Regions from separate parts of the Homo sapiens genome. Here regions 2 and 3 are each reported to be linked to region 1. The links are microRNA targets in miRTarBase. Many come from high-throughput screens and were not tested one by one. Region 1 holds a microRNA gene; each other region holds the end of a gene's coding sequence.
The links. The annotated mature microRNA hsa-miR-1179 reads AAGCAUUCUUUCAUUGGUUGG and lies in region 1 at 1,008-1,028, shown strand. An mRNA with a match to its seed (bases 2 to 7 or 8) in the 3' UTR can be bound and repressed. Matches are read on the target gene's strand: a 7mer-m8 pairs with bases 2 to 8, a 7mer-A1 pairs with bases 2 to 7 and ends in A, and an 8mer does both.

Region 1 (3,131 bases):
TGGATTACCCCCACTTCTCACCTTGCCCCATAGACCACATAGAAAGCACAGGTAGAGGGAAACGTGTCTCCCTTAGCAGATGGACACTAGCATCACTCTCATTTGATTCCTCAAGATTCTCTTCTCTTCTTCCTCCCCAGCATCGCCTTCATAATTAGCAAATACAGCACCTAAAGCTTCTAATCCTCTGAGTTTTTCTGTTTCCCTTGATTGACAAACATTGACTCCACTTTCACCTGTCAGCCTTGCCCTGCCTATGTCCATTAGAAACATCTGGGTAGGAAATTATTTTACTCATAATTTTCCAAAGGCAGCTGTAACATTCTCAGAATGATTTGAGAGGAAATCGCTAGCAAGTTACCAGAACAGCCTGTGCTCTGTGCACTGTTTCATCTCAAATAAGTCTAAGTGCCATGAACGTTCTCTTTCCCGAAAAACAGCAACAATAACAACAACAAAAAGAAGTTTGTTTTAAACTGAGATATTACTTGACAACACGGGGTTGGAGAACATTTCTGTTTCAGGCAGGAACTGTGATATCTTTATCTGTGATGCCCTGAACCATAAACACACAGGTCTTTTCTTTTCTCCTCTTGTTCTCTTCTTTTCTCTCCATTTCCTTCATTTATTATTAATATAAGAATTTTTATTCATTATAATTTCAGCATAAGTTTAAAAGGTCAAAAATTCGCTCGGTGAACTGACTTGATAGTTTTGCGGGTATTTACATTAAAATGCTTTTAAAATGCTTTTCTCTCCCATGTTACTATAGAAACTTCCCTTTAGACCAGACCAGACAGCTGGTCTGCTTTTTGTACTTTTCTTCCCAAAGAAGTGCTTTCCTTTATGAATTGTCCGGGGCAGCTATCATTGATCACATCAGTAATGTCCCATAGCAACAGTTGTGTGGTTTTTTTTAATTATTATTCACTTTCTGCTTATTTTCTTTATGGACAAAGGGTCTACTTTCAAGAAGATAACTGAGCTCTTATTGGCTGGAAAGGAAGAAGCATTCTTTCATTGGTTGGTGTGTATTGCCTTGTCAACCAATAAGAGGATGCCATTTATCCTTTTCTGACTAGCTGAGTGAGCAGGGTACACAGAAGGATTGAATCTGCCTTAGTTCCATCCAGTAGCAAAGGACAGAACTCAGAGTCCTGGACTCAGGATCTGGAATTGACTTTGGCTAATCCAGATTGCACTGACTTGCAAGGATGACATTTTTTACCTACCTATTCGCAGCTTACTTCAACATACCTGCCTTATACATTGTCCTATGGCTTTTTTCCCCCTTCATTTTAGGAGATACTGTGATCATCTTTCCAAGTCAGTGCAGGTTATTGTTACCAGCACACTGAGGGTCCAGAGAATTTTGTGATTTCCCCTAAAAATAGATAATTGGTCCTCATTATTAGAGATTTGGTGAAAACTTTTGGAGATGAAGATGGAAAGCTAGAAGTCGGAAGAACTGCATTGCTTGTGATGCAGAATGGATATCTCAGCTTGTGGATTCACTCTACTCAGCTCTCAGCTTTGGTGTTTTGTGTTTGGTGTTTGGTGTCCTCTTCACTTTGATTTTTATTTGTCTGTTTTTCCACTTTCATTCTTCAGAGCTGCGCTTTTGGCCTGAATTTTCAGTGACAAATAGAAAAGCTGAATGGATGGAGACAATGACTCTTTAATTCAATGTAAGAGCTGACTCATCGCTTCCCAGGAAGACTTGTTGCAGGTAGGTGATGGTTATCCTGGAACTGGAGATTATCCCAGTCCTTTGTTGCACTGGCAATGGGCAGGTCTGTTTATTTTTCTCTTTTTTCCTGCACCAAATAGTCCTACTCAGGGATGCTGGCATTGGTCCCCACTTCCCTAAAAGAGGGGAAGTCAAAGTTCTTTCCCTTTCAGGACAGAAACTCTCTGATAACAGCCCGGAAGAAGTCTTAATGTGAGTACAGACCACTTCAGTCAGTCTTTTTTTGGTTCTTGGCAGGAGGGGATACTGGGAATGGATAGATGCCTGATCATCACGGTGCTATCAAGAGCCATATTCTTTATTGGCCCCATCTGTGCCAGAGTTCAGCGGTACCATGAGCCCTAGTGCTAGACTATTAGCCCTTCAATATTAGGAGCTATGTCTTGTACCCCTTTGATTCCCTCAAACTCAGTTGTGCTTAAAGTAGGGCTGAACAAATGTTTGAACTAAATCCTACTGGCTAGTATTAAGACAAATAGCTTATCTTCTTCTTTATGAGAATGGTAGCTCTAGACCTGGACCCTCCCCCTCCAAATCAAAAGCTTCATATTCCCTAGCCCTCTTCACAAAAGATAAATTAAGGCTCAGTTAATTGTTACCATGGTAACATGGAGTGGCCACATTGAGGATCCCCATCATCCATTACTGTCATGAGGTAAAAGAGAGGAGGGGTTTGGGATCATTGTCATGGAGGAAACCATGGAAACAAGCGTTGCTAAGGGAACAGCTCTAAATTCAGAGGAAAGAAATTAGAAGTGGGGAGTGGAAGTTGGTGGGCTCAAGGGCAGGTCATTTTTTCAAAATATATTTCTTTGAGACTACAGCAGCCTCTTTTATTGCTTGCATCTTCTCCCAATTCAGATAGAGCCCAGAATTAAAGAATTTTGAAAACTAGGGCCACAATCAGTTCAAATTCATCTTCATTGGATCTGTAAGGAAAAAGCCAATGAAAATGGATTTACCCTGTTCACACCTCACAATCCTACTCTGTCTCTGAACTCTGCTTCTTTGCCAACCAGTTTCATTTATCACGGGCCAGGCTGTGCGCGAGGCACTTGGAAGAATAATGAGTGAGAGTCCCTGCTCTCATAGTGAGCTTCTAGCAGGGCAGTGGTTTGGGTGGTGGCTTTAGGGCCAGGGTTGCTCATGTAAGCTAGATCAGTCAGTCCTGCAAGCTGACATCCAGAGAGATGCTGTGGTTCTCTCCAAACTCTCTTTGTGGTGCATTTTAGCTTGTCTATTACTTCTCAAAGTTTATTTGCCAGGTCCCTAAGAAAGGCCTGTTTTTCCTAGAAATACCTAGGGTGCTAAGCTCTCCTATTAACCAAGGGGTTACCTTAGTTAGCATTGTTCTCTAATGGTACCCTCAGGTCCTTGTCTC
Region 2 (3,131 bases), not on the chromosome of region 1:
CTGGTCTAGAACTCCTGGACTCAAGTGATTCACCCGCCTTGACCTCCCAAAGTGCTGGAATTACAGGCGTGAGCCACCATGCCCGGCTGAGTTTCTGCTCTTAAAAGAAACAGTGGGGAAAAAAAGAGAAGACATATTCTCATTTCAAAGCAATTTATGTTAGTAATAACTGAGCAAAATGATAGAATTTTTTAGTTGTGTGTTTTCAGAAGTAATGTCAAATTTACTTCAGATAATTTAAAAGGTTTTTTGCATATTAAATGGTTAATAAAGTGGTGTTATTATACTAAAGAAAAAATGCAAAACCTTTTTTACAGAATAGTATAAATGTTTATTTTCTGTATGATTTACTTTGCTGTCCTGTTTTTACAATATAGAAAAGTGTATTCTTTGAATAGCTCTAGTAAATATAAATTTAATCTTTCTACTTTGGGATGTAAATAGAGCTAAAAAATTATATACCCAACCCTCCCCAAATAGTCTTTTAAAATCATTGAATTAATGTGGCTATTCATCTTGTTCAGCAATTTGATGCAAATGCCTGAATACAAAAAGTTATTTAGTAAGTACTACACAGGAAGGAAAAGGCTTAATATTTTAGATAGATAGATTTTTGAAAATCAGAAAAACTAGTAGCATTTGATTGCACCTTGAAATTTTTTTACAAGCAAAACATTCGTAAGCAATGCCATCATACATAATCTACAATTGTAATCAAAATTTCACGAACATTTTCTGCACACTGTATATAAATACACATCACAAAGGTGCAATTAGAATTAACACAGAGTATGTACAAAATGAACAAAGTTTAAGTTTAGACCAAAAACTTATTGCAATCTTTTGAAAAATAACTTGATTATTATTTTACCCTCTTACACTAATTTACATTTATACAAATTTTAATTAAACATACTAGATTGAGGTGCTAAGAATGTTTGAACTATCTACATTTAAAGTTACTGCACTATGATTTTATAAATCCAAATTTAAAAGGAAGATACTTTAGTGAATAACGGAATCCTCTTTTGGATTACTTAATTTCTATTGCCTATATCTTGCATGTTCATATGAACATATATACACACTTAATACATACAACTATAGAGTCCTTGTAGGAAATGAAATAATCATATACTAATTACTGATGATTAAGGTACCTAACAAAATGCCTGAATTCCAACATGGTTTTTTCTTGTCATAAAATCAAGAGTCCTGTCACAACAGGCTCTTAAATTCATAGAGTTTTTGAATACTGAAAATGATTTAGGTTATTTTAGTAATTATAGGAAAACAGACCTTCCAAATCACTGGCTGAAAATAATGCCATATTAAACTTCCCTTATAAAAAGAAATCCCACCACAATTTTGAAAATTTTGTTAGGAGGCCCATTTCTGTAAATCAAGTAAGAGTTGCGATTTGGTTTGAAACCTCTTAGTTCAAAAGTCTATAAAAAGGGCCTGGCACGGCGGCTTATGCCTGTAATCCCAGCACTTTGGGAGGCCGAGGCGGGCGAATCACGAGGTCAGGAGATCGAGACCATCCTGGCTAACACGGTGAAACCCCGTCTCTACTAAAAATACAAAAAATGAGCCGGGCATGGTGGCATGCACCTGTAGTCCCAGCTACACGGGAGGCTGAGGCAGGAGAATCGCTTGAACCTGGGAGGCAGAGGCGTTGCAGTGAGCTGAGATCTCACCATTGCACTCCAGCCTGGGCTACACAGCGAGACTCCGTCTCAAAAAAAAAAAAAAAAAAGTCTGTAAAAATAATTGATTGTATAGATGAAAACTTCTCTAAATTCATCTTTTGCAGCTTCCCTATTCTTTGTTTCTCCACCCATGCCAAATTTTATACTTGATTACTATGTGAGGTTCTATATTATCACTACATAATGTTTACTTCCATTTATATCCACCTATCATTTTAATAGTACCCAGTAATCACTTTGACAATTTATTACTTCAAATACATACCACCTCTTTGAAAGAAAATGGAGACAGCCCAGAGCATCTGTTAGCCTTTCCTTATTATAGAAACACATTGCCCATCCTCTGAGATTTACTGTCCTTTAATATTTTATATGTTTTTTTAAATAACTTTAAAAAATTTTTAGTGTGCCTGGGGATTGTTTCCCCTTCTGACATTCCCAAAGTGACAACAGGATATTATTCCAGAATCGGCCCTAAAAGGCTGCTTTTTCTTTAAAAGATAGTCCTTTTCTAAATACAAAATGTCATTTGAATGTGTTTCATAAGAATTTGTTTATGTAACATTCTGTCTGCAGATATTCTAGATCAAGTCCCAAAGAATGGGTGCTAACCACTGCTGCTTTGGCTTTTCTATTAACAAAGTCATACAACACCATACATTATAAATTATATGAATTTATAAACATTTTTTGTCAAAGGTATCAGAAAGAGAACATCTAATTCTTAAGAAACCCAAGCAAATTAAAAAATCTATATAATAAAGAAAAATTCAATTTAGAAGGGGCATAAGCAGATTTAACTAAGATTTAAAATGTACTAATTTCCTCATTTAAAATTTCTTCTCCTTCAGTATTATAATTTCAGGTCTTTTAAAACAAGGACTGAATTAAAATACAGTAATTGTTTTTCTTCCAGAAAATCAAGTGTCCCTGCACCTTAAATTTTCTGTACAGTTCCATTTATCAGTCTTTTGTGCAAGAGTTAGCAATTCATGGCACAAGGGTCACTTTTTGCCTTTCCTGCAGAGTTGATGACACTCATCAAACATCGTCCGAATTCCTCAAGTATCATCCGTTCCGCTGCTGCCTTTGATTTTCCCTTCTTGTCTGCCTGCTCTGCCTGGGCAAGGAGGCAATTACATGTGGCTTCAGCTACTTCCTTAGTTACAAATGTAAATGGCAATCTGAAATGATTTTTGAAAGAGAAAGATGATGGTGGTGTTAAATAACAACAAAAGTGGATAACATTCTTTCATCTGGAAATCTCTACTGACACTTTCACAATTCACCAGCAGGATGAGCATCACAATTTACACAGTGAGCACAAGCACATCCTAAAAAGGGCTTTAAAAAGTTAAATTTGGTTTTATTCACATATTGTAAGAATATTGTTCAGGAAATTTAACATAAAACACGTTA
Region 3 (3,131 bases), not on the chromosome of region 1:
GTACTTTATAATGTAAGAAGCACCAGGGTTTTATGTTTAATTATCTTAAAAATAATTTTTCTCTCGTCCTTTTCCTTTTTGATCTTGTGTTGGTTGATTTTTTAAATGTCGAGGTGTTTTTTTTAAACTCTAAAATGTGAACGTTTCCTTCAGCCCTCCCACCGAAACAGAACGAACGACGAAACAAATAAAAACCCCAGATCATCCTCGTCAACGCAGGAAAACGACTTAAAAAAAAAAAAACTAAAAACGAACAAAAAAAAGGGAAAAACACTCAGCTTTCGTTATCCCCGCGCAGGGCGGGGCAGGCCCGGTTCTTTTAGCGTCCCCAGAGCCGCGAGGACATTACAACAAAAATAGAATTTTTTTTTCTTAATCTCTTAACATACAAAGATAGGAAAACTCTCTGATGCATTGCACTTGGTTCAATGAAAAAAAAAAGTTAATTTCCCCCATATATATTTTTGTTTTTTTTTTTTTCTCTCCTAACACGTCCCCACATCTCCTGTTGCCCTCATTGCCCCTCACAACACCACTTGGGAAAGGAGCAGCCCCCACCCCCTGCCCGCCCGGGCAGCCCCGCCGGGCACGCTCCGGCCCGGGCCCAGCTGGCCTGCAGCTTCCGACCTCGCCCGGGCAGGCGCCCCGCAGACCCTAGCTCCCACAGTCCCACAGAGCCCGAGCCCTCGACTGTCGTCGAGGGAAAGGGCACGTGGGCCGGACAGGGAGCCCCTTCTGCTTCGCTCTCAGCTCTGACCCTGTTTAGCCAACCGAACTGAAAAATCATTGCACTTTGACCGCGCGTCACGCCCGGCCCACCCGGCCCCCCACCCCCGGGGCCTTACTCCCCACGCCCCGGGAGACTCCCGCAGGATCCACTGCCCCTCAGCCCTGGGGTCCTCTAGGGCTGCACGCTGAGGACAGGGGGAGGGCTTCACTCAACTTCCAACAAAAGCCGCCCCTGGAGCCAGCCACCTTGTGGCTTCCAGCTGGGTAGCAGGCACCGTTCGCCTGCCGCTACGGCCCCAGGTCGCTGACCTCCTCCCCTCCCGTCACTCCCTCCTCTTCCCTCCCTCCGCCAGCTCGGGGCCACAGCCTCACAAACTAGATTCACAATAAATACAGCCCATAGCCCACCCCTACGTGGTGCAATGTTGATTTTCTCTCAGAGGATCCTGACCTGTGCTTTGTGTTTTCATACAATTAAGAAAGAGAGAGAAAGAGAGAGGCACAAGGACTCAAGAAGGGGCCAGGAACGGGAGACGCAGGAGGAGGAGTAAGGCACAGAAAGACAAGCCAGAGGGGCCAAGTCACACCCTGGAGGGGAGCTGGGCGTGCTCATCCTCCCCTCCCTCCCAGGGGGGCTTCTGAAGACCCTCTGGACAGGCCCCCCAACCCTCCCTTGAGGGAGGAGGGGGCTGGGGGGGAGAGCTACTTCCTGTGGTGTGTTACCAAATTGTTCCCAAGTTGCTCAAATGGAGGAGGAGTTCCCATTCCAACAGCAAAAGACCCAAACAATGAATGCCCCACCCCTAAATAAAGAGTAAAGACATTACAGCTAAAATCCAGAGAAAAGTGGCCACGTGGGGGGCGGGGAGGCGGGGGAAAGTCGGGGGGCACAGAAAGCTCCAAAACACTTTTGAAAAGGACGACACCCAACACCCTCCCAAGGAACTGAAAGTCGGCGAGCAGGACGCCTACCTAAGCGCAGGTGGTGGCTTAGCGCGGCAGCGGCGGCTGCCTGGTCCTCCTCGCTCGGCTCCGGGGTCCCCTTTCTGCTCCACCCTCCGGCCCGGCCCCAGCAGGGCAGTCTGCATGAGGGGCAGGGGCAGGAACTGATGGGGCGGAGCGAGGGCACCTGCATGCAGGGCTGGGGGCGGGGGCGACCTGGGGCCCGACTCCCCTCCCTCGTGGCAGGAAGGAGGCCCTCCTGGCCTGCAGAGAGAGGGGAAAGGGGGCCTGTCCCAGGCTGGGACGAGGCCGTCGAGAGCATTCCGACTTTTTCCTACGGACTGTACAGAGGGGTCCAGGGCCCCAGGACTGCTCTTGCGGCTCAGGGTGGGGTGTCAGAACACCCTCCATTCTGGGACACGCAACTAGCTCCAGGGGTCACCCCCTGCCCGCCTGGGGGCTTTTAGCCCAAGGGTGGGGTGGGGTAAGTGGAGGCTGCTCTCCCCCTCCTGGTCGGGAGCAGCTGGGGGAAGAAGCTGGAGCCTTGGCAGAGAGGGAGGGAGGGAGGGAGGGAGGGAAGGGCGGAGTCTGGAGGGGAGAGCCTGAGGGATCTAAACCCCATCATCTTTACAAGCTGGCCCTCCAGGCTCCCTAGGGCAGCTCCGGCTGTGTGGAGGGTGGGGTTCCCCTAGGAAGGGGTGAGGGTGGAGGCCAGGCCCCTTCAGAATTGTGCTGGTTGCTTTGTTTGGGGACTTTGTTCCTTCCCCAGAAGGCCGGGGCGGGGTCAGGGGGAGGAAGGCAGTTCTGCATCCTTTCTTGCTTTCTGTCCTCTACTTGACAGAGTCCATGTCGCGTGTTTCTTTCTGCTTGGCTGCTGGTGCACAGCTCCACCGAGACCCCTTCCAAGGGCTCTCTGAGAACTGGGCTGCTTCTGGGGCCCGCGGGGGTCCCCGGGCTGGAGGAGAGAAGGGCTGAGTGGCTGACGACGTGTAATTTTTGCTTTTCGGTGGGGCTGGGCTGGGCTGGGGGATTTTTCCATTCTCAAAATTTCTTCTCCCCCCTTTCGAGGAACCTCTTCTTCTCATTTTGTTGTTTCTTTTGTCGATCTTATCAGAGGAACCAGGACTGAAACAGGATGAAAAAGAGGCGATACTGAGAACAGCTGGGGCAGGTCCCATCTCACTCCTACCTGGCCCAGTGACCTGGCCCCTCAAGGGTCCAGCTCCCAAAGAGCCAGGGTGCCGGGCAGCCACCACCCACCTTGTTCCCATGGAGAAGAAAGGGCATCCCCATTCTCTCCCTCCCTCCTGCGAGAACCCCGCCCCCTCAGAGACTCTGCCCCTAGTGCTAGAGTCCAGCTGGCCTTCCCGTGGGCACTGTGCCCAGCGGGTGGGACCCCCATGGCTGGCGCTGGCACAGGCCTGAGATCTGGCCATGTTTCCAATTGTTTAGGTTTTTGT

Region 2: miRTarBase lists LIN54 as a target of hsa-miR-1179. Seed matches in the 3' UTR shown: 7mer-A1 at 634-640.
Region 3: miRTarBase lists NFIX as a target of hsa-miR-1179. Seed matches in the 3' UTR shown: 7mer-m8 at 1,989-1,995.

The regions. Positions count from the first base shown.
Region 1 is chr15:88,607,114-88,610,244 of GRCh38, forward strand. It overlaps MIR1179 (microRNA 1179), which reads left to right and starts at 994; the gene lies at 994-1,084. It also overlaps a transcript of AEN not described here.
Region 2 is chr4:82,925,408-82,928,538 of GRCh38, forward strand. LIN54 (lin-54 DREAM MuvB core complex component) reads right to left here. Exons shown (of 13, transcript NM_194282.4): 13 at 1-2,896. The coding sequence ends at 2,695. Among named protein-coding and RNA genes, the nearest start is that of THAP9-AS1, 26 kb to the left of the region's middle.
Region 3 is chr19:13,094,300-13,097,430 of GRCh38, reverse strand. It overlaps NFIX (nuclear factor I X), which reads right to left. Exons shown (of 11, transcript NM_001365902.3): 11 at 1-2,796. The coding sequence ends at 2,782. Among named protein-coding and RNA genes, the nearest start is that of LYL1, 7.0 kb to the left of the region's middle. RefSeq lists an enhancer at 649-1,512 and a silencer at 1,824-1,913.